Regions from separate parts of the Homo sapiens genome. Here region 1 is linked to region 2. A link means that fine-mapping ties the variant in region 2 to the expression of a gene that starts in the linked region. Tissue or cell type: thyroid. Region 2 holds a variant in brackets; the other region holds the start of a gene. All regions are shown on one strand. Distances are from middle to middle.

Evidence for each region.
Region 1: SH2D4A starts here. The variant in region 2 is fine-mapped to the expression of SH2D4A in thyroid (GTEx, PIP above 0.99).

What each region holds. Positions count from the first base shown.
Region 1 is chr8:19,307,290-19,319,719 of GRCh38, reverse strand. SH2D4A (SH2 domain containing 4A) reads right to left here and starts at 6,027. Exons shown (of 10, transcript NM_022071.4): 1 at 5,897-6,027; 2 at 1-376. The coding sequence starts at 172. LOC105379306 (a long non-coding RNA gene) reads right to left here. Exons shown (of 4, transcript XR_949550.3): 3 at 11,278-11,464; 4 at 7,896-7,987.
Region 2 is chr8:19,268,145-19,280,574 of GRCh38, reverse strand. It overlaps LOC105379300 (a long non-coding RNA gene), which reads right to left. Exons shown (of 5, transcript XR_949537.2): 5 at 3,194-3,314. Among named protein-coding and RNA genes, the nearest start is that of SH2D4A, 39 kb to the left of the region's middle. The variant G/A (reference allele first, on the strand shown) is at 6,437.

The sequences.
Region 1 (12,430 bases), 39 kb before region 2:
GTCTGGGTTTCACTGGCAGGGACTCCTTTCTTTCCATAGCTGCTTCTCTTTCTTTCCATCGTCGGATCTGTTCCTCTCTCATCTTGAAGAACAGGATCTGTTTCTGTTCTTCGCTGAGCTCTGCCAGTAGATCAGGATCTATGTACATCTCCGACAGTATCTGTTTCAGCATCTTTGCACTTCTGAAGTCTTTTATACTTGTGGCAAAAGTTCCTGAAACTGGCCTCCAGGTGTCCCTCCACCTGTGCTGGCACTTGGGCGTTTCCACGAAACTTCCCAAACAGCTCACAATCCTGGCTGACTGGGACAATAATTCAGCAAACTGGCTACTCAGACCTGGCACCAAATGTCCTGTCCAAAATGCTGTTCACTGAACCTGCAGAGAGAAAGAGCCCACATTCAGGCAGCGTGTTAAAATGTGTGGACACTGGCTAGGACGGGTTTAAAAAAAAAAGCTAGGAGGAAACACAGTATCACTTTTCAGTTCAGAGAGAAAAGAGAAGAAGAAAATCTGAGGCACACTTTGTTAAGAGTTTGTATAACCTCTATCCTGTAATTTCTAAAGATACTCTGTCAAAAAAAAAAAGAAAACAAACCCTAACTTTATACAGGTCAATCTCAGGCAAACAAAAAAAGTTCACAGAGGTTTGTCCAGCTCCCAACTAAGCAAACACATTATTACCCCAGAGCCTAACAAACCACCAACTGTGTGGCTGAAAAAAGAAAGAAAAAAAAAAGTCACAGGAAGAAATTAAAAGGCTCTCTGCAAAGTACCTATTTCAAAAGAAAATACCACTTTTGATATGTCACAGAGTAACTCATCCCAAACCAAACCAAAATAGAGCCATGCTCAAGGAAGAAAAAGGAAGAAATAAAAACTAGACCACCATGCATTTTCTGCAATTTCCCTAAAAAGTAGCATTAAATAAACAAAATTATGTACTTTCCTCTTCACAAAAGGATAATGTAATTTCCAGATAACCTACTAGAGCCATGAAAATCAGGGCAGGTGCAAGAGAGAACATCCATCTACATTCTGGAAGGTCACCGAGTTTTAGGTGTGCTTTTTCCAGATAACCTAGTTTAATAAAATCTAAATGGACAGACCAGATAAACTAGGGGGATGAAGAGGTCATTAGGTTCATAACAAAGGATCCTTCATTTATATGACTTTACCGCATGGCTCCTTGAAAGAGAAACCATAAAGCGAGAGTGCACAGTGGCCTCCTAGAAGTTCTCCTGTGGTTGGAAATCCTACTGAGGTTTCATTCTACTTTCCACATTTCTATTTTAAAATATTGGCTTAAAAATATTACCACACTGTCATACTTTCTCTCTCTATTTTTAAACAATTTCTAAGTCCCATAAACCATCATACTTTTGTAATCAGCAGGAAACTATGTAAATATATCTATTCTGGAAAACAAAAGACTTTGGATTCGATGTAATAAGATATAAGAAAAAAAACTTACTACAACTTTTCAGAATCACATGTGTCCTAAGAAATTGACCAATAGGCCAGGCGGGGTGGCTCACGCCTGTAATCCCAGCACTTTGGGAGGCCAAAGAGGGGGGATCACGAGGTCAGGAGTTCGAGACCAGTCTGACCAGTATGACCAACATCTCTACTAAAAAAACAAAAAATACAGAAATTAGCTGGGCATGGTGGTGGGTGCCTGTAATCCCAGCTACTCAAGAGGCTGAGACAGGAGATCGCTTGAACCTAGGACGCAGAGGTTGCAGTGAGCCGAGATCGCGCCACTACACTCCAGCCTGGGCAACAGAGGGAGACTCTGTCTCAAAAATAAAAAAAGAAAAAAAAAAGAAATTGACCAATAATTTGTTATTTATAATAACACCTCAATAATCTTACCACCTTGCCATGTGCTCTCAAATACGTTGTTTCTCCATACTATGTTCAAACAGTCTTAAACTTCAGACAAGTCACTTAGCTATATTATGACCATCGTAGTGTTGTTGGTTTCTCTTCGTTCACCTTGTCATTGATACAGTTAGATTTGTAATGCCCCTCTCACCATCTGGGGGCCTCCTTCAGCTTCCCGTCTTCCTCCTCTTCCGTGCAAAGTAGTTCCTTGATTTACACCTGTCTTTTGAGACAAGCACGCTCAACAGCTAGGCTACCACAGAGTGGTGTGCATACTCAGCTCTTAGATTCGCTGACTGTTCATTGTGAAGCCAGGCCCTTGATGAAACTACACCTATCCCTACTGACTGCAACCTATCATCTCGGCAGCATTCAACTACCAGAATCCAAATGGAACCAAACATTAAGAGAAAAATTTTAAAGGACTAAAAGTAATATCACGCCCTTCCCAGATCCACTTGCCAACTTTGTATTTTGCATTGAGATACCCTTAAAGGCTTGAACAGCCAAAAAAAAAAAAAAAAAAAAAAATGGATGTCTTGTCAAGATTTCTTGACTTTTGACTTTTTGTTTCTAGCAGCTTCTCAAAGGGTGGAGCCAATGAAATCCACAAGCTCCAAGATAAAGTGGTAAGAAAGGAGACAGAATGACTCCTTGACATTCCAGTAAATGTCCTTAAGTTCAATGGTTGGTTTTCGCAGAAATCACACACGGCAGAAGATGAACAGTTCAGCTGGGGTTGAGACTTCTGCTGTGTTCCCCATTTTGAATGCAGCGAATCCTATTCAAGGCATGGGTAGATCCTAGAATCTAAAACCCTTAAAGTGTCAAAGTCATATTCCTCCAGTCTCCCCCGCCCTGCATATTCCTGATAACACAGCTAACACTTCTTGTACCAGGCACCATCTTAATTAAGCACTCTACATGTGTTAACTCACTTAATCTTCACAATAACCCTTGGAGTCCAGCCCATCACTATGCCCATCTCACAGATTAGGAAGATAGAGCACAGGTCAGCAGCTGGTAAGCGGCAGAGCCGGGCAGTCCAGCTCTAACTCAGCTTCACTGTAATACACAACACAGAGGCCTTTTTGTGAGTTTATTTGTGTGCCCAGAATCAGAACAGCAGGATGTGGTGCCATGTATGAAATTTCAGAATGGAAGCCAGCAAATTCCTGCAGCAACAGAAACGCTGAACTGATGGTGCTTGACACAGGGCAGAAGCCTCCTCCTGGTCAACTGTAGCTAAGCTTAGGGGAGGCCAGGTGCACACACCCCAGCCAGGAAGGACAGCAAGGAACCGACTGTCACACTGACCCAGGTGTGGACATTGCTTACCCACGTATTCACCAGACACTTAGTCCCATTTCCCCTTGCACTTAGTCATCCACTTCGTCTCTACAATTTCCCCTTCCAAACAAACACTAAGAACAGCACAAAAAGCACAGCCTCTCACATGTGCAAGGAGGTTCATGGCACCTCTGTGATGAAATTCTCACATTATTTCCATTTTTATGTTGTTTTGTTTTACTTTTTATAGCAAACGTGGATTTCTAACATTAAAATTAACTAGTTCATCTTGAAGGAAAGACACTGGCTTCCTTGTGCCTCCAAGAATACTTGGGGGACCCAGCCGACAACTATCTGTGGTCAGGCCGTTGACGATGTGGCCATTCTGCCACTGCTGAATGGTACTGGTGTAAATCACCTGTCCCCCTCACCCTCTAATTCCCAACCCCTAACCCCCGCTCCAAGGCTTTCTCAGACCCCAACTCAAGCTCAGCACAGTACACCCAAGACACCCAGAGGCACTCCAGCCTCAACTCCCAGCTCCGCCTCTAGTGAGCGGTGTGACTCTGTGCTGTCACCTCACCTCCTTGGGACTCAGTTTCCTCATCTGTGAAACGAGGACTGGTTCAGTCTGTGACTTCTAATGTGTGGGTATCTGACATAATCTACTGTGAAGCGAAGGAGCCTGGTGGAGCCAGGGTAGAAGAAATAGAAATCAGGAAATTAACTAACTAGGGCTTTCCTACTTTCACTCCCTGACAAGGAAGTAATCATTGCTGATACTGATTCAAACTCAGAGGACTTTCCCATACTATATCAAGGGCAGCAAATCTCCGGTTATTCAAGATCCAACAAAGGAATAGCTCAGCTAACACAGCCCCTTTCTTAAAAGAGAGAAATGATAAGCAACAAGCCCACACCTGCTATTTATTCTGAACACCAATTGCTAAAAGGTCAGAGAATCCGTTGTTTTCCATGATACCATAGATTTGGCCTGATTCTCACACCTTCACACTGTTCTACAATACAACTGTCTTTTGAATAACTCTGAGACCTAAACAAAATACAATTTTAAAAGGCCTTAGATACAGGCTAAATCATAAAAATAGTAGGCGGGCACAGTGGTTCTACATGTAATCCCAACACTTTGGGAGGTGGACATGGGTGGATTGCTGGAGCTCAGGAGTTCAAGACCTGCTTGGGCAACATGGCAAAACTCCGTCTCTACATAAAGTATAAAAATTAGCCAGGCGTGGTGGCCCGCACCTATAGTCCCACCTACTTGGGAGGTTGAGGTGGGGGGATCTCTTGAGTTGGAGAGTTTGAGGCTACAGTGAGCCGAGATCGCACCACTGCACCACAGCCTGGGTGACAGAAGGAGACCCTGTCTCAAAAATTAAAAACATTAGGTCGGTGCAAAAGTTATTGTGTTTTACATGGCCAAAAAAAAAGTAACTGCGGTTTTTTTTACGTAAAAACCGCAATTACTTTTGCACCGACCTAATAAAATAAAAAATAAATAAAAGTATTGTGGTATGGACAGTGTAACTATAACATTAACAATACAGTTTGAATTCTAATTCTTTTAAAACAGCCAGCTCTGTGGTCCAACTTTGTTTTCTTATTGAAACTTTATCTTATTCATCTACCAGCAAAAGGGCTGTTTTTGAGGATGAAACAAATTACCAGAGATGACAGCAGTTTGTAAATATATACTATTCTTCAGAAATTTGAGATTACTGTACACACAGATTTAGTATACATAGAGAATTCCACTCATATGCCAAATCTATGCCCCTGTATGCTTTCCACTTATTTATTCACTATTTTAAAATAATCGTACCCAAGTCGTTGTTTCTATTAAACCAGCAATCAAACGAAAGCCTTTGGAGCGATGAGGAGCATCTGTTTGAAAGGGGGAGGTGCCACGCTTGCTGCTTCTCTAAGCTCCCTGGGAAGGGAGAGACAACTCAGAAAACCTACAAACTGTAGCTCCTTCCGGTGCCCGCGTGACCCCCGAGTCCAGGAGCGGGCAGGGGCGCCGCTTGGCTGAGCGCACTGGGCACCCGGTCTGGGTCTGGGCCAGCCCCGCCGCTGCAGCCCGAGGGAGGCGGCGCTGCACTGGCCTCCGCGCGCTCCCAGACCCCACGTGGGGGCGCCCCTGGGTGCCGGTGCGCGGGGAACGTGCTGCGGGGGTGCTGCGCCAGCTGCCACCGTTTCCCGGGACTTCCCTCCTGGAAGATTTCCATGCGCAAGTCGAGGACGTGCTCCTGCTAGGAGTCTAGAAACTCTAGGCCAGCCCGGACCCTCCCGGGGCCTGCACTCCCCGCGGGTGGAAGCACGCGCCGCGTGTCCCTGCCGGATTCCAGAACTTCCCCGAAGGTCCTCAGCCCCGGCAGACCCTCTCCCTCGAAGTTCCCCCGCCACCCCCTGCAAGCCCCCAGGCCCCGGGGACCGCCGCTCACCTAGCCAGCGGCTCCAGACACCGGACACCGGACACCGGACACCGGACACCCGCCGCGGCCGCTCTCGCCGCCCAACCCCGCACCTGAGCCCGCCCCGGGCGCCGCGAAGGGGTGGAGGCGGGGGTGAGGCTTCCGCCCGCCCGCTCTGGCCCCTGCGCCTCCCATGCACCCATGCAACCTCCGAGGAAATTCCCTTCCCCCTACTCCCACCCCACGCACACTCTCCCCAAAGCCTCGCCCCACCCCCAGCACCTACCAGTGCTGGGCGCCCCTGGGCAGGGTGGCTCGATCACCCGCCACATCCACTTGGCCGCCAGAAGCCGTCGGGGAAGGGAGGGAGGGAAAGGCAGAGGCGTCCCAAGCGGCGCAGGCGGGCTGAGCAAATACTCCGGCCCGGACGCAAAACAGCTCTTGTAGCCGTCCCGCCCGCGCCGCCCCGCCGCGCCCACATGCCGGGGTGACTGGCGGGGCGCAATCGCGGCCCCACCCGGGCGCCTGGAGGCTCTCCAGGGCCACTCGTCGGCGAGGCTGCGTGGCCTGCGCATCTCGGGCCGCCTGGCCCGCGCGCTGTCCCCGAGCTGCGGTAGTCCGGGGTAGGCTTGTCCTCTCCTCTCTTAGTTCATGAGACAGGGATCTGCAGTCTGTGATCTCTTGGGGACTGCAGGACTTAGATTAAATCTGCAGATCTGGGCCTTTCCACGTTTCAGAGCTCGGGGTTCCTTGCTAGGTGTAGGGTAGGAGGGTGCGCAGGCCCCACTTGTTCACTCTGCTTGGGTGCTGCAGGCCAAGGCGACTCTGGAGCTTTTTTTTTTTTTCTTTTGTTGACATTAAGTAAATGATCAAACTCTTTGGCACTTGTCGGTACACGTGTGGCTTTGTAGGACAAGATGAAGGAAGGAAAAGGCTGGAAGGAAGGAGACCGCAGTCAACACAGACAGGTGGAGAAAATGAAAGAAAACTGGGGGAAAAGTTAAGATGCTGAAAGGAGTCTTGAGGATTGCAACAAGAACAGGTTGGCTTGGTGCCTGAAGACGTCAGGGAGGAGCTGGCAGTCCACAGTTAGAGGAAATCTTGGAGGAAAATTGAGCAGAAGCACAGTGGAAAGGCATTTCCACTGGAGGGCATTTTCCATCCTAGAGGAGCATGTGGAAGAAAACCGCCTGCTTTGGTGAACCCCAGATTTTGTGTATTGGGAGAGATGTAATAAACAGTAAACACCAGTAGTCCTCTCCACGGACTACCTGACCTCTTTAGGAGCCTGACCTGCTGGATTCAAACACAAAATGGCATTTCCCTGCCTCTCCAAACTGCAGAAGCTGTGCAGAGTTACATCAAGCCTCGGGGCAGGCGGCATTGTCAGGAAATAAGACCCAGCTATTTAGGAACAATTCCAGGAATCCCATCAGGGAGGAATTTCTGGTGTAAGGCTTAGTTCCTACTGCAGTTTAAATGATAGCATATGGGGTGCTTTAGGCTGGAGTGGGATTGGCCCCTGGAAAGCTGCTATGACGAGGTCAGAATGAATCCTAGCCCTGCATGGATGCATCAGTTGAACCATACAGGGTGGTTTATCAGTTAGGAAAAATCCCACAGGACACTGTGACAGCCTACCTTCCTCACACCCAGTCTCTCTCCAGGTCCTGGCAAGTCCTTCCTTATAACAGCTTTATCACTGTGCTACTAACCTCTGTACCTCACTTTCCTCCTCTAGATAAAGAGTGTCTGCCTCGGTAAGTTGTCAAGAGGGTTAAATGAGATGCTACATGCAAAGAGATTAGAAGAGCTCTTGGCATGTGGTGAGTGTTCAAACACATTCACTCAGATCAGTTCATATCACATTAAGGTACTGGAATTCCACATTCCTGCCATCTCACCCTAGGCTGTGGGTTCTGCCCACCATGCCACCTACCTTCCAAGTCATTCCCAGGGATCCTATCCTCCTGGTATTCACATCCTTGCATAGCTCCCTGCCACTTTGTAAAGGTTGGTATGCTTGACCAATAGAACCCGGCAGAAGTGATGATGGTCTGCCACTTCAGAGATTAGGTAAGGAAACACCTTGGTGCTTCTATCTTGAAATAATATTGACAGCCCAAAGGAACGCACGCTGTACACAAATAATGCAAACAACTCAGAACCCAGACTCTCTTCCCTTTTCTCTCATCTGCCCATTTCCATCCTTCTTGTCTCGTGGCTCTTTCCTATATTTGCCATGAACTCTTCTTCTTCTCTTATTTTTATAGTTTCTTCTCCATCCTCTTCACTTGGTCTCCCCTCTCCTCTATCACCTTCTCTTTTTGTTTCCTTTCTGCTGACTCCTGGAATTTCCTCTTTTAATTGGCATGGTCTGGAAGAGAAAAGGTAGATGTTTTTCCCTTAATTTCAAAAGTAGACAATTCGAATTTTTTTTTTTTTTTTTTTTTTTGAGATGGAGTTTCACTCTTTTTGCCCAGGCTTGGAGTGCAGTGATGCAATCTTGGTTCACTGCAACCTCGGCCTCCTGAGTTCAAGTGATTCTCCTGCCTCAGCCTCCCAAGTAGCTAGGATTATAGGCACCTGTCACCACAACTGGCTAACTTTGTATTTTGTTTTTGTTTTTTTTTTTTGTTTGTTTGTTTTTTAGTAGAGACTAAGTTTGACCATGTTGGCCAGGCTGGTCTCAAACTCCTTACCTCAGGTGATCTGCCTACCTTGGCCCCCCAAAGTGCTGGGTTACATGCGTGAGCCACTGCGCCTGGCCAAGAATGTTTTATAATGCTCTAAAAAAAAATCAGGTGGCCTATTACTTGTGGGGCCTTCAGTTACTTTTTCCCTCCCTTTGGGCCAGTACTCTCAGAGGAAAACATTTCCCCCCTCCATGATCTAGGATGTGTTATAGGGACGAATGTGGGGAAGACTGCTGACAGGGGCTGGCCACTGACGAGTCACAGACATGGAACATGGTAGCACCAACATGTGTTCAGGAATGCTCTGCTGCAGCGTTCACTGCCAGAACTTAAAGAGAAAGCTAAACATCTATTTATTGGTTACTAATATTTTTAATTTGTCATTTATTCGTGGTAATGAATACCATGAAACAAATAGCCTACATTTTAATGGATGTGTTCCTTGGCCTTCCTTTTGGACTGTTGCTTAGGAGCCCTGCTGCCCAGGGCTGTCAAGTAAAATGGCATAGCATGGCCCTTGTACAACTGTGGGTGGGCAGGGGACAAGCACAGAGATCACTATGTGTAAGGCGCCCCCTGGAGTTGTGCAACACTGCCAGCCCTATTGTTGCCAGAAAGACAGGATAAGCCACTTTGCACTTTTTCTGAGATAAAGATTAATCCTTATTTCAGTTCTACAGACAATGAAAATTGCCTTCATATGTTTTCTTTATAAAATAGAGTATTTTTCCTGTCATATTTTATGATCAGCATCAGAAACCTCAACCACTTTTTAACTGTTAGAGCAGGTATACACTTGTACCACAGTGAATGTAACGTACAAATGAAAGAAAAATACAAAAACATTTAAACTTTACTAAAAACTGATCAAATCTCAAAATAAATCTTAATCAGTTCATCAATCATTAAAAATATATTTAGGGTCTGCTGTGTTTTCAGCTCTCTGTGAGCAGTTAGATTTGATTTTGAACTATTTTCATTTGTGTATGGTTCTGTATGGGCCTTTATTTCTTCATCTTCATAAACACCAAGATAAATTATTGGTCTTTACATTCATCTTTGAATCAATTACATTACTGTAATATTTAATGTTTTTCCAAGAGTTACCTTTATGGAGTTCTTTCTCTAAAATCCACACTCTGAGTTGCTAATTAGACATTTCTGGTCTCTCATATGTGTGTGTGTATATATATATATACATATATATATGTGTGTGTGTGTGTGTGTATGTGTATGTGTATATATGTATGTGTGTGTATGTATGTATGTGTGTATATATATGTTTTAGATGGAGTCTCGCTCTGTCTCCAGGCTGGAGTGTGGTGGCACGATCTTGGCTCACTGCAACCTCCACCTACCGGGTTCAAGTGATTCTCCTGCCTTAGCCTCCAGAGTAGCTGAGACTACAGGTGTGTGCCACCACGCCTGGCTAATTTTTTGTATTTTTAGCAGAGGCAGGATTTCTCCATGTTGGTCAGGCTGGTCTCAATCTCCTGACCTCGTGATCTGCATGCCTCAGCCTCCCAAAGTGCTGGGATTACAGGTGTAAGCCACCATGCCCGGTGGTTTCTTATATTTCTGTAATACAGTGACAAGCAGCCCGTGTCTCAGAGAACTGCTCACCTCAAACTTATGGGTGGAATTGGACAGTCGCTATCCCAACGATATGGGACATCTGCAGTGGCCTATGGTAACCAGTGCTTTTTTATGGGTCAAAGCTCTGAGAAAGGAGCAGAAGCAAACTTTTTCTAATATTCTGGTGTTCCTTGGATCTTCCCAGGCAGTTTTGATAAGGTCTACTAGACTCATAAAATCAAATCTCATCTCTTTTTTGGACCAGATTCAGAAATGCGTTTCCATTTCCTAGCTTCTCTCTTACAGGCAATCTTTGCAAAAAGTGCACAAATCCCTTTTAGTTTTATAAGGAATTTTCTGCAAATGAGTACAGCAGTTCTCAAGTACATATTAAAATAACCCAGGGAGATTTTCTTTGTAACATTTGCCTCTTTGTCTACTCCTCCAAGGAGTTATTTGATTGGGATGAGATGGAGCGCAGATATCAGCATTTTTTCAAAGCATCCAAGGGGATACTAATGTGTGGCCAAGGTTGAGAGCCACTAAAATATATGGAAATAAAGTTAATTGGCTATGAGAAATGTTGAAAAAGCAGTAATGGCACTTCCTGGACTTTACTGAAACATATATAAGGCTAGATAATCATCTTCTTCATTCTGGTTTTTGAGTGAGTTCCTAAACTCAGTCTGAGATAGACTTTCCACCAAACCCAGACTGTCATTTAATAGGATGGGAATGAAATGAGATGCATAAGATGACAGTGTCTGGCTTATTATGGGATGCGCAACATACACAAGTTTTACTTCTTTCCTTCCTTCCACTTCTTCCTGGTTTTGAAACCCCCGACATTCCCTCTGGCCCTTTAGCTGAGGAAGGCATTTCCCTCTTTGGCACCAAAGGCTCGCCCACTCCCACACACACCCCATGCATGGCTCCAAGTGTCCTCCAGATTTCTCTAACTGGAAGTTGAAGTGCATTCTGCCCTTTGGTAAAGTAAGACACTTTGCCTCTTCCTCTAAGTGTATGTTTGAATCAGAGCCAGCTTATGGCCTCTTCGATAAGTGCCATTGTTTAAGTTTGAAACAGAGTTGGTTTTGACTGGTGTGTTGGTATTTTAAGGACAATTAAATGTATACAACACCTGGCATAGCTTCTAGTGAAAGGGCATGGCCCATAGATGACAGATCATTCTACACAAATAGAGAAATATGAAAGAGGGTAGCTCCCTGAACCCTTCACAGAGAGGGTTCTAGATTCATAGAAATTATATTGCCACATTCACCAATTTAAATATCACAGAACTAGTCAGTGGCATACAGAATTAAAACAAAGACTTTCTGATGCCTAATCTCTTTACATAGTTATTACACTACGTTAACTTAACTAGCTCATTTACCTTACTGAATTTGAGAGTGAAAGTGAAGCAAGTCACCATCGGGTCTCTCTTCTAACAGACAGCACCTATGTCTCTTGATGGAGAGCAGATGGGAGCTACCTCCAAAGCTGCACTGGTTCATGGCCGGCTGGATGTGTAGATGACTCGGCTCCAGTTTCTACTCAGTCCTGGGTTCAGAGTTGAAGACCTGCAAGTCACACACAAGCTTTTGAGCCTGAACAAAGCAACAACTCTTTTTTTTTTTTTTTTTTTTGACTGGGTTTTACTCTATCACCCAGGCTGGAGTGCAGTGGCTTGATAACTGCTCACTGCAGCCTCAACCTCCCAAGCTCAAACGCTCCTCCCAAGTAGCTAAGACCACAGGCATGTGCCACCAGGCCTGGCTAATTTTTTTTTTTTTTTTTTTTTGAGACGGAGTCTCGCTCTGTCGCCCAGGCCGGACTGCGGACTGCAGTGGCGCAATCTCGGCTCACTGCAAGCTCTGCCTCCCGGGTTCACGCCATTCTCCTGCCTCAGCCTCCCGAGTAGCTGGGACTACAGGCGCCCGCCACCGCGCCCGGCTAATTTTTTGTATTTTTAGTAGAGACGGGGTTTCACCTTGTTAGCCAGGATGGTCTCGATCTCCTGACCTCATGATCCACCCGCCTCGGCCTCCTAAAGTGCTGGGATTACAGGCGTGAACCACCGCGCCCGGCCTAATTTTTTATTTTTTGTAGAGATGGGGTTTTGCCATGTTGGCCAGCCTGGTCTTGAACTCCTGGCCTTAAGCCATCCTCCTACCTCAGCCTCCCAGAGCACTGGATTACAGGTGTGAGCCACCGCACCCAGTGTGTGACTCATCTTAAGTACAATAAGAAGGTATTGATGGAAAACCAAACAATTCCAAGTGATTCTTTTAGATCAAATTCTGACCCAGAGAGGAAATATAAAGAAAAAACAAGGAAGAAGAAAATGAGAAGAGACAGAGGAATCAATACCAGAAGGATAAAAAGAATGGAGGAGATTTTTTAAAAGAAATCTGTAATATAGTTGATTTTATAAGTGAGCTTCACTTTAGTACGTTCCTGTAGAGTCTCAAATCCACACTTCTTTTTAATAGAGAAATGGTTCACACAAGAGAGAAAGGAAGAATGCCTCTGGGCTTCAGAAATTA
Region 2 (12,430 bases):
CCAAATACCATATGTTACCACATACAAGTGGGAGCTAAGCTATGGGTATGCAAAGCATACAGAATGGTATAATGGACTTTGGAGACTCAGAAGTGCAGAGGGTGGAGAGGTGAGGGATATAAAACTACATATTGGGTACAATGTACACTACTCTTGTGACACTAACACATCAGAATTCCCCATTATATAATTCATCCATGTAACCAAAAACTACTTGTACCCTTAAAGCTACTAAAGTAAAATTTTAAAAAATTAGACAAGAGGAAGGCAGATGGAACACCTAGATGACCCTTTTATTACTGATAAATGCTAGGGCAGTTTGTACCTGCTGACCAGAAGGAATTTGGGCACTGAGCCCCCGGATCAGACACACCTACACCTCAGGTCAATTCAGGCTCTCCACCTGGCAGCCTTCCCTATACTGTTTCCTGATGGAGAAGCAGAGCTGATTGCAGTTTTCCTTGGAGGAGCAGAGCTGATCGTAGGTTTCCTACAGACAGCTGGTTCCTAGGAGGAGGAGAAAGCCCGTCCTGTGCATGTCCAATTCCCCTTCCTAATTCACTATCAGCAAGTCACTATCCGCCAGGAACTTACATGCTACTGTGATATTGTTAGCTTGCTGCTGAATTCTTTGCTATCGGGATGAAGGGGGAAAGTTTTGTTCCACTTCTCCTACAGAAACAGGGAACCCATGAAATAGTTTCCTGTGTAACACTGTTCTCTTGTTTAACTAACGCTGTCATAAGTATTGTCATGCAGCCCATGCTGGCAAGTTGCTTAATCTCTCTAGATAATATTGTTGTAGTTCCTGGGGGCTATGGTGAGTTTTCCATCAATATCTTGGAAATTAGGAAGACTGCTCCCATAAATGATGAGACACAGATATGTCATTTGAAGGAAAAATAACTACCAGGTCAACAGTACTTGACTGATGACATGGCCAGACCTGCATCAGCTAGTATGGTGGCTCACGTGTAACTATTTAAACTAAAATTGAGTAAATTTAAACAAAGTTAAAAATTTAGTTCCCCAGTCTCACTGGTCACATTTTAAGTGCCCACCGATAATGTGGCTAGTGGGACAACATAGATCGAGGACATTTCCGTCAACACAGAAAGGTCTGTTGGACGGCACTGCTCAAGAAAAGCACTAGTTAATTCATAGACGAGTTGGTGAGTTGATTAATCTTTGAAGTACAGACAATGGAAAGCCTTCAAGTCAATCCCTGGCAGTGACATTGTATCAGTCTGGGTGCTGGTAGAAAACAGGTAGCACACTTAAAGATTAATTGAAGAGAGTTTCATAAGGAGGTTAACAAAGGTGTGGATAGACCTAAGAGAACCAACAAGAGATGGTGGAACCTCCAGGGCTTTTGCACAGTTGGGAGCTATCCCCTCCTCCGCCGCTGCCCCAGGCTTGGAAGGAGAAATGACATCACTGGACCTGGCTAGATAGAGCTCGGCTGTACATGAAAATAGCCACCGCCAAATTGATGAGCCTGCAGTGGGAAGTTTGGGGAAATATCCCGATTCCTTCTCTTCCTGTTCATCAACTGTCCTGCTGGTGACTCCCACTGGTGTCTGACCAGAAGTCAAAAGAAATAAACCCAGCAGGCAAGCTGTAAAGGCTGGGGTCTTGGGGCACAGAGCAGGAAAGAGAAGCATGGAGAATGAAAACAGGAGCAAAGGAGATGAATCAGCTCTCTCACCAAGCTCTGCCCAAAGCAGAGGGAGCTTTGACTTGGGCTGAGCTTTGTGGGGGAAAGTCCTAACGTAGAGATAAATGCTGGAGGCTTGCAGTGGTGCTGTTGTTCGGTTGGCTTCCCATGTGGGTCTGACTTCATAGAAAGGAATATACTCAGCACGTGGTGTTCACGCCTGTTCATTGGGCAGTTTTCTCTCTCACTGTTAATGAAAACGTTGGCAATTTGAAAAAGTGTTTCTGATCCAGCGAGGCCAAAGTCCATACACCTTGGTCCAGAGTAAATTTACCAAAGTGAGGAACACTGCCCTGTGAAACCTTATGGGAAACATCCAACAGACCTTGCCCTGATGAGGACTCTAAAACATTGCTGTGGGCCCGAGGGGACACATTGTAATTCCTCCAAATAACATCTGCCTCATGGAATTGCCAAGAGTGTTCAAATACACGTCTTACATAAAGCACTTCGCACAGTGCAAGAGAAGCAAGAGGCAATTAGTTCATTCATGTGAGAAATATTCAGGAATATCCACCACGTGTTGGTCACTGCTCCGGGCTGTGGAGATGTAGCAGTAACAAAGCAGACAAAATGGCTGGGCGCCGTGGCTCATGCCTCTAATACCAGCACTTTGGGAGGCCGAGGCGGGGAGATCACGAGGTCAGGAGATCGAGACCATCCTGGCTAACACGGTGAAACCCCGTCTCTACTAAAAGTACAAAAAATTAGCCGGGCATGGTGGTGGGTGCATGTAGTCCCAGCTACTCGGGATGCTGAGGCAGGAGAATGGTGTGAACCCGGGAGGCAGAGCTTGCAGTGAGCTGAGATCACGCCACTGCACTCCAGCCTGGGCGACAGAGCAAGAAAAAAAAAAAAGCAGACAAAATTTCCTGCCTTCTTGAAGCTTATAGCTTATATTTAAGAGAGGGACCAGGATAAAAAGCAATATGGCCAAGTAAATCATGCATTATGTTAGACAGTAGTAGGTGCTGACAAAAATAATGCAGAGAGTGGGTCTTGGAAGGGGAGTTGCAAGTGTAGATAGGGTGGTCAGGGAAGGCTTTTCTCAGTGTGAATTGTGCATAGAAGCCTACAGGAAGTGAGGGAGAAGACATGTAGACATCTGGGGAAGAGCTATCAGACAAAGGAGAGAGCCTGGACAGAGGCCCTTGGATGTGAGCCTGCCTGACATGCTCCAGGAAAAGGGAGGTGGCCAGAGTGCCTGGAGCATAGGGAGGAGAAGGCAGAACTGGAGGAGATTAAGGCAGAGCTGAGGGTGGGGGCTGGATGGCAGATCAGGTAGGGCTTGCAATCAATATATTTTAATGACTTTCCTACTCTCCAGCCTGAAATTATTCACATTGCCTCCTCATGCCATTATTGAACTCTTTTTCGTACGTAAATGTTCTGTTTGATCTCTGTGAGGTGCTCCTTCTCAGCAACCTGGAAGCAGGGCTCATGTCATCTGTATATATCTCTTTAACTTGCCTTATTTAGCATAACGCCTCACATCAAGTTGATTCCCAATGGATGCTGATTGAGGCAGAAATTCCCATTTGGTCTTCAATTTGCTGCAGAAAAATTCAGTGATGTCCCTGTCCCAGCATCGTGTGAGCTGTTCAAAAAGAAAGCACAGCTTTTTAATTTGACAGCAGAGTGAAATAACCTTAGCTCATCTGCATAGTAATAAAAACCCAGGCCATACCCTTCAGGAATAATAGCTCAGTTCATCATTCAAGCAAAGAAAAACAGAATAATTTCAGTGTCTGTTTAAACTTTCACATAATCTTTTGACCAGGACCTAAGCCATGTTCAGCAGCCTCTAACAATAGAGGCTGAATGTGCCAGCCAAGGGCCAAGATTGATAAGCTTAGTAGCTTCCAGGGCAGCCGCAAAGCCCAGCGTGCAGAAGACCCTGCGGTGGTTGCACCCATACATCACCTGTCTTTTTCAAAGGAATGACAGCCTGAGTACTGTGCTGTGCTAAGATACTTGATTGAAATTTCTCAGATAAATCAAAATGAACAAGATGTGTTTGCACTTGAATCCAAATGAGGTTCCCCAGTACCTCAACCAGAAAGCAGAAATATGAAGCCAAACCAAAACTCAATTTATTTCATAGTGGTGCTATTATGTTCTTACGTGTTCTGTGGTCCACAAGGCAGTCTGTCTTCCTTGGGATGTCTTTTTTATTTTGGTATCTCTCCCAGACCTACAGTTCCCTGATCCTTCTCTTTTCTTATAATTTTTTTCCCCTTCATCTCTTTTTTTTTTTTTTGAGATGGAGTTTCACTTTTGTCACCCAGGCTAGAGTGCAGTGATGTGATCTCTGCTCACTGCAACCTCCGCCTCCCGGGTTCAAGTGATTCTCCTGCCTCAGCCTCCCAAGTAGCTGGGATTACATGCACCCACCACCACGCTTTGATAATTTTTGTATTTTTAGTAGAGATAGGGTTTTGCCAGGTTGGCCAGGCTGATCTGGAACTCCTGACTTCAGGTGATCCACCTGCCTTGGCCTCCCAAAGTTCTGGGATTACAGGCATGAGCCACTGTGCCTGGACCCCTTCATCTCTTAATTTACCTTCATATCTCATGGCCCCATTTCCCCCCATATATCCCCGACTAGATGCTTGGCTCTTGTGCGGGAGGCACCATGTCTGAGAATTCTAACTGCTCGCCCCTCATCCCATATGCCTTCAATAGTGCTGCATGTAGAGTTGATTCTCATGTTGTTTTAATCTGACTGTTTTATTTATGTAGATAATCATCTTGTTCCAATATAAATTTGAGATGGCTTACAGAAATACACATAGTTCAGCAGGAGATTAAACCAGTGTCTGAATGGAGAAATTGTAGTGAAAGGGTGATATGATTTGGCTGTTTCCCCCCAAATCTCATCTTGAATTGTAGCTCTTATAATTTCCACCTGTCGTGGCAGTGTCCCAGTGGGAGGTAACTGAATCATGGGGGAGGGTTTTTCCTGTGCTGTTCTGGTGATAGTGAGTAAGTCTCATGAGCACTGATGGTTTTATAAAGGAGAGCTCCCCTGCACATGCCCTCGCTTGCCTGCCGCCATGTAAGATGTGACTTTGCTCCTCCTTTGCCTTCAGCCTCAATTGTGAGACCTCTCCAGCCATGTGGAGCTGTGAGTCCAGTAAACCTCTTTCCTTTTTAAATTACCCAGTCTTGAGTGAGTATATTTTTATTAGCAGCATGAGAACAGGTTAAAACAGGGGGATTAAAAACAATGGCCTTCATCTCATTTACGGTTCTTTCTTGGGTTCTTCCTATAACTTGTCCTCTTGAGATATAACAAACACATTACATGGGCCAGATCTCTTTATAGACACTGCCCTCCCCTGAGCCTGCTCCAGAGCCAGTGCAGCCCTGCAGGTTGACTCACTGCGGTAAACTGTGTACCCAGGCCTGCTCTATGCAGGGGCTGCTTTGAGATAAAATACTTCTTGTGTAATTGTTTTAGTTTATAAGATTAATATTTTTCTTCTCAGGGACTGTGTCCACAATTAAGGAAAAAGGCTACCAGGTGAGTAGTGATATTTGGCAGGCCAAATATGGGATGTGGTTAGTTGCGTCATAAAAAATAAAGTACACTTTACTAACTCAATTTTGGTCTACATTTTACTTTTCTCTTATTATAACAGGAAAATTACAGAATATTTAGAAAGGAAAGAAGTTACCTACCATCCAAATCAAAAAGGCAACTTTTAAAAACATTTGCTTCTAAGCTTTTTGCCAGTTATAACAATAGAGACTTATGTTGTACTTTTTTCCTTAACATTATTTGCTGTGCAATAATTTTAATATCTGCATAATATCCCTTTTATGTTTTTCCATAACCATTCTCCATTAGTAAGCATTTAAATTCCTTCCAGTTTTTCATTATTATAAATACTGTACTGAGCATCTATGAACACATAGGTTTTTTTTTATTTTGGATTATTTCTTTAGGGCAGATTCCCAGAGGTAAATTATGGCCAATGGGCTTTGATATTTTTTAATTCTTTACACATATTTCCAACTTGCTTTCGAAGTGTTGTGCTGATTTATGAAGTCACCCCTGACGTAGCAGATAGTCTGCTTCATAGAGCCTTTTCCAGCTCTGGGATTGTGTTAAATCCGTAAATTAACTTGGAAGGAAAAAAGTATGTTACTCTATTCGGTCTTGCAATTAAATATATCTATTGTTCTATTTGTTACTGCTGCAGTTATTATTTTGATATATATGTATATGAATTATAGGTATTATACATACATACATATATATGTTAGATGCAGGCAATAAGAGGATTCCTCAGGCCTTTCTCTTCTCTTTGCTTTTAATGTTCTTCCTTACCTGCTTTTCTGTCTTCTCCCAGCCCAGCACACTCTCCAGGCCTCATCTGCCTGCACACCCACATAATATCTTAAAAATTCACAAAGGTAATAATAAAACACAAAAACTGAGTGGCAGAGATAGCAAGTGCACTGAGGCTTGAATAAAACTCTGTGCTAGAGACCAAGTCACTGGATTCACATGGGTGTCAATGAGATCAGACCCACCCTGGAAGTAGATTAATGGGGCTGCTGACCCCCTGTCCACTGGCTGATGGTGAGAATTTTGAAGCGTCCTTAATAAGGCTCTCATATAGAACCTGAAGAGTCTCGGTCCTTTGACTTTGTGTGTACGGTGTGCGTACATGCTCTTGGCGTGTGTGAGTGTGAGCTGATGAGAAGGGC[G/A]TTCCCAGCAAGATTCCTTGGCACCATTCTCTAGTTTTAGGGGCGAGTGCAGTGCAGTGTGTATTGTTTGCTGTTTGCACAGCGGCACTTCACTGCTCCAGGGCCAAATGATGACAGAGGTAAAGTCTGGGATGCTTCGACACCACTCCCACATCCCTGTGCTGTGTCCCGGCTCTCCTCTCTTGCTCCCAGCCAACGGTAAGAGGCTAAATGCCTGGGTCTGAACTGGTCCCAAGATCTGAACTGTAGAATCTCAGAGCTAGAAGACATCTCAAAAGTCACCTGGCTCAACTCTGTCTTTTTCTATACATGAGGAAAGTGAGGCCAAGATAAATAAAGTGGCTCAAGTCAGTTTAGTTTGTGGTAAAACTAGCATTAGAACCAAGGTGTCCCGGGCAAAAGGTTAACAGACAGGGCCACTGGCCCTTGATCTACCTTGCGGGAAGTGCATGGCTGTGGGTAAGTCAGTCACACAAGCTTTCTCATTTACATACTTTTTAAACCACATCGGCCTATCCAAAGGGCCACTACAAGGATTAAATTGAATAATGGATGTGAAAGAGGGCTTTTGAGACTGTGTTCCGCTCATGTTATATGTTTAATATTCACAGTCAGTAATGGACTAACGGTGGGACAGTGGATACCACCAGCTTCCCATGCAAACAATAAGAGGCCGCATTATCTGTTGAAAACGTAAAAACAATTATAAAACTGACTAAAAATTAGGTTGCTTTTGTTATTGTTGTGTTTGGCAGTTTTAAATCATGTCAGTGATAAAATAGTCTTTCCTGAAAAATTATTTTGTAGGTCGCCATTGCAAATAATTGTCATGGTTACTATTGAATTTTAATGATATGTGTGAAAGCTTCAACTTAGCACATTTTTGTTTCTTAACCTCTAATAAGCCTTGTATTCCACATGAAAGTTAATTCCAAGGTCTCTCAGCTAGAGATGCTAGATTTAACAATAAAGATAAGAGATGCCCAGTTAAATTCGAATTCCAGGTAAACTGCAAATGATTTTTAGTATAAATATGCCTCATGTTTATTTCAGACATACTTATACCAAAATAAACATTGTTGTTTGCTTGAAATTTAAATTTAACAGATGTCTTGTATTTCATCTGGCAAGTCTACTAATTATACATGGGAACACAAATACATGCTTTCATTCAGAGAACAAGTTTATCACAGCTGTGAGTGATTTGAACTCACCTGAGGCACAGTTTTTGTCTACAACCCTGGTAGTAATACACTTATTTGAATTTAAACAGTAGATTTAAAATAAAGCTAACACAGGAATTATAAGGACAAAGAAACTGAAAGTGTCCTTCAATTTTGTCCTTCTTCAAGTGGCCACCTGGAGCTTTTATATGGTTTTTTAAAAATTTAAGAGTGAAATAGAATATGAACTTCAAGGTATCATATTTTTGCTTGGTAAGAGCATGTTTTAGTTCACATGACACGTGACATATTTTACTGAATGTTATGGGTTGAATTGTGGTTCCGCAAAAAGATATATTGAAGTCCTAATCCCCAGTACCGCACAATGGGACTTCATTTGGAAAGAGGATAATTGCAAATGTAATTACCTACATTAAGATGAGCTGACACTGGAGGAGAGTGACTCCTTAATCCAATATGGCTCGTGTCCTTAAAGGAGGAGGAGAGAGACCCACAGGTAGATGAATGCCAGGTGAAGACACAGGCACACAGAGGCAAGGCCATGTGACAGCAGAGACAGAGATTGGAGCGAGGCAGCTGCAAGCCAAGGAGCACCAAGGATTACTGACCCCTACGGGAAGCTAGGGAGAGGCAAGGAAAGAGTCTCTCCTCCAGGTTTCAGAAGGTTTCTCCCAGGTAGGTTTCCCCCGCTGACACTTTGATTTGGGACGTCTAATCTCCAGAACTGTCAGAAAAACAATTGCTATTGTTTTCACCCACCCAGTTTTTGGCACTGTGCCCAGGTCCACCACCTACTAATTGCATGACTTAGCTCATGTTTCCTAATCTCCCTGAAGCACAGTTTCCTTATGTATAAAAATGGGGCTGGCCATGCCCACCTCAAACTGTTGGAATATAGTGAGATCATGCACATAAAGGGCTCAGCGCTGTGCCTGGCATAAGATAATGATATTAATGTGCAAATGATATTCACTTCTCTTCTTATGCTGCTGCTATTGTAATGGCACCTTCAGGAGTGATTTCTCTAGGAGTAGTGCCATGTAATAATGCTCCCTGGAAGACCATGTTCTCCAGATGCAGAAGGAATGACTCTCTGGGGGTTGAATTTTAGGCATGACAGAAAATTTCTACACGTGGAAGCCCCTTTGCAGAAGATGTATTTAAATCCCGGCCCCTGCAATCCCAGCACTTTGGGAGGCCGAGGCAGGTGGATCACGAGGTCAGGAGATCGACACCATCCTGGCTAACATGGTGAAACCCCGTCTGTACTAAAAATACAAAAATTAGCCAGGCGTGGTGGCGGGCGACTGTAGTCCCAGCTACTCGGGAGGCTGAGGCAGGAGAATGGCATGAACCCGGGAGGCGGAGCTTGCAGTGAGCCGAGATTGTGTCACTGCACTCCAGCCTGGGCGACAGAGGGAGACTGTCTCAAAAAAAATAAAATAAAATAAAATCCCAGGCTCTTATCAGCCACCCATGACTGGACACATAGTAGCTTCACTTCAATTTCAGCCCTCAAACTCCCAGGCTGTCCAAGAGACATTCCACACATGGATGAACAGGAATGAGCAACCTTGAATAAACATGATGTTGCAAGAGAAGGGTCACTACCTGAAGAGGGCGTCCTCTAACCACAGGATTCTCTTTTTATGATTGATTGATTGATTTTGAGATGGAGTTTCGCTCTTGTTCCCCAGGCTGGAGTGCAATGGCCTGACCTCAGCTCACTGGAACCTCCACATCCTGGGTTCAAGCGATTCTGCTGCCTCAGCCTCCCAAGTAGCTGGGATTACAGGCACCTGCCAACACGCCAAGCTAATTTTTGTATTTTTTGTAGAGATGGGGTTTTACCATGTTGGCCAGGCTGGTTATGAACTCCTGACCTCAGGTGATCTGCCCGCCTTGGCCTCCCCAAGTGCTGGGATTACAGGCATGAGCCACCCCACTCGGCCATATGCTTCGTACTGGGAATCCCACAAAACCACTCATTGGCAATGGAGGAAGCTCAGAACAGTGACAGATGCCACTGCCCTTAACAAGATTGATTACTATGCTTGAGAGTGGCCTGAAATTGGTGACCCGGGGGCCAGAAGCCAGGTTCTAGAATAACATAACAATCAGCATGTAGCCAGAATAATAATTCTAGTAATAACACTATGATAGTGAAGATGGCAATTTAAACAGCTGGCATTAAGTTTTTACTGTGTGCTAGGTACTGTAAGATGTGCCTTTTATATCTTACATTTTAATCCTATAAACAGCTATGTGAAATTGTTATCCCCATTTTGCAGATTAGCAAACTGAGCCTCAGGGGGGTCATTAATCTGCCTGGGATCCCAGGGCTAGTAAGTGGTTGGGCCAGGGCACAGACAGGGCACAGAAGCTACTGCCACCATGAGTGGCCAGGCACAAAGGAAGCAACAGAGTTGCCCAGGGCCTGGCTCTCTCTGCTCATCCACATGCCTGGGGCCAGAGGATCCACTCAGTAAATATTCATGCAATGCCTACCATGTCCCACGCATCGTGCGAGGTGCCAGAAATGACATTGAGGAAGCAGGTGGTACAGTGCAGGCTACGAGGTCCCATCCTTCATCATCATGCTGAGCCTTTCAAACATTTTCCTTTTGGAGCCTCGGTCTTTCCCTCCACCTTCTAGTGGCTGGGCGGGTTAATCCATGCAGGGCAGAGGCCAGGTTTTAGGACATTTAGGTCATTTCCACCCTAGAAGGTGGGAGAAGAGCACTGCCAAGTTCTTCCCTCTTCCCACATGAACATCTCATCTTCAGCACCATGATCATGCTCATTCTCTGGGTTCCTCCGAGGAGGCTGGCACCAGGCTAAGGGGATCACACACTTTCTCCTTTCCTTTCTACAACCTGTTAGGAAGAGCTTATGAGATAGGCCCATTGTATTCCCATTTTATACATGAAGCAACCAATGTTCAGAAAGGTTAAGTAAGGGCCAGGTGCGGTGGCTCATGCCTGTAATCCCAGCACTTTGGGAGGCCAAAGTGGCTGGATCGTGAGGTCAGGAGATCGAGACCATCCTGGCTAACACGGTGAAACCCCATCTGTACTAAAAATACAAAAATTAGCCAGGCATGGTGGTACCTGCTTGCAGTTCTAGCTACTCAGGAGGCTGAGGCCCGAGAATCCCTTGAACCTGGGAGGCAGAGGTTGCCGAGCTGAGATTGTGCCACTGCACTCCAGCCTGAGAGACAGACTGAGACCCAGTCTCAAAAAAAAAAAAAAAAAAAAGAAAGGTTAAGTTAAGTCTGCCTGTGCTGCTCAACTGACACACGGAAGAGCTGGGATTGGAACTCAGGTCTCCCTGACTTCAAAGCTCATGTTCTGTATATTACCTCATACCGACTTTTAGAACCAATTAGGCTGAGAGTGGCAGAGGAAGGAAATAAATACCATTAAACACGCAGTCAACCTTTAAAGTTGTTTTCAGCCATCTGCCCTGGCCTTTTCTTTCAAGGCTGGAATTGCTCTCGCAACACGACTAAATGTCCTAAGTTGTTGCATGATGCTGAAAAACCCAAGAGAGATTCCAGATCCTTCTAAACAAATCAGATGGTTTAGTCTGTGAGGCAGGGGACATTACAGAGACAACAGGAACTTAGTGAAATCTCAGTCTCTGACCCTTTTTCTAAATAACAATTCATCTGAGGAGACTTTATTTTATTTGTTTATTTATTTATTTATTTATTTATTTATTTATTTATTTATTTCGAGACTGAGTCTTGCTCTGTCACCCAGGCTGGAGTGTAGTGGCACAATTTTGGCTCACTGCAATCTCTGCCTCCCGGGTTCAAGTGATTCTTGTGCCTCAGCCTCCCAAGTAACTCAGATTACAGGCATGTGCCACCATGGCTGGCTAATTTTTGTATTTTTAGTAGAGAAGAGGTTTCGCCATGTTGGCCAGGCTGGTCTTGAACTCCTGGCCTCATGTGATCTGCCCACCTCGGCTTCCCAAAGTGCTGGGATTACAGGTGTGAGCCACTGTGTCCAGCCCCCACCTGAGGAAACTTTAAAGGACAATTGAAGGACTTTAGACTTTCCTGGTGTGTCACTGAGAGCCAAAAGTCCTTTGTTTTGAAAACTTCTGCTACAATTTTCCCTTCCCTAAGCCACTCCATTCTCAATGGCATGATCAGTCTTACCTGCAGCAATTTTGTTATTGTTGTTGTACTTAGAAAATCTCTGCTATTGAGAAGAATAAACAGAATGAGTGACTTTATGAGATGTAGGATGAGAGAGTCACACGTTTTCAGTTTTTAAAACTAGGGTTGTATGTTCCTATATCTATACCTATACAAAGAATCATCATTGTCAAAAAATTACTGCTGTGGGTGGCAATGGCGGTGACAAAGGGGCCTAGTGACCCCAAGCCTCACACGGGGACTGATACCAACTTTTACTTATGTTCACAGAACCGAAAAACTGCAGATTAAAATACCCAGGATCTTCATTTGTATGTTATTTATGGTTTCTGATTTACCCCAAGATTAAAATTTTCCTAGGTATAAAGTAGCTGTGTTACCAGGCCACCCTCCTGAAATAGTGTCTTTCTATCTTCCTTGTCAAAACTTGCCAGAGCCCTTCATTTTTGCTTCTAGCTGGAGTAGTTCCTAGGGTCCTATAACTTCCTTGTAGTTATTTTATGGAAGACTTATTGAGTTGAGAGCTGTTTTGATTGGCTTAGAGCCGATGTTGGCATACAATATAATATTTATTCAATGTGGATCAGGTCCATGGGTTCTAATATCTTGCTTTTGTTGTTTTAGGGCATATGTTTTCCATAT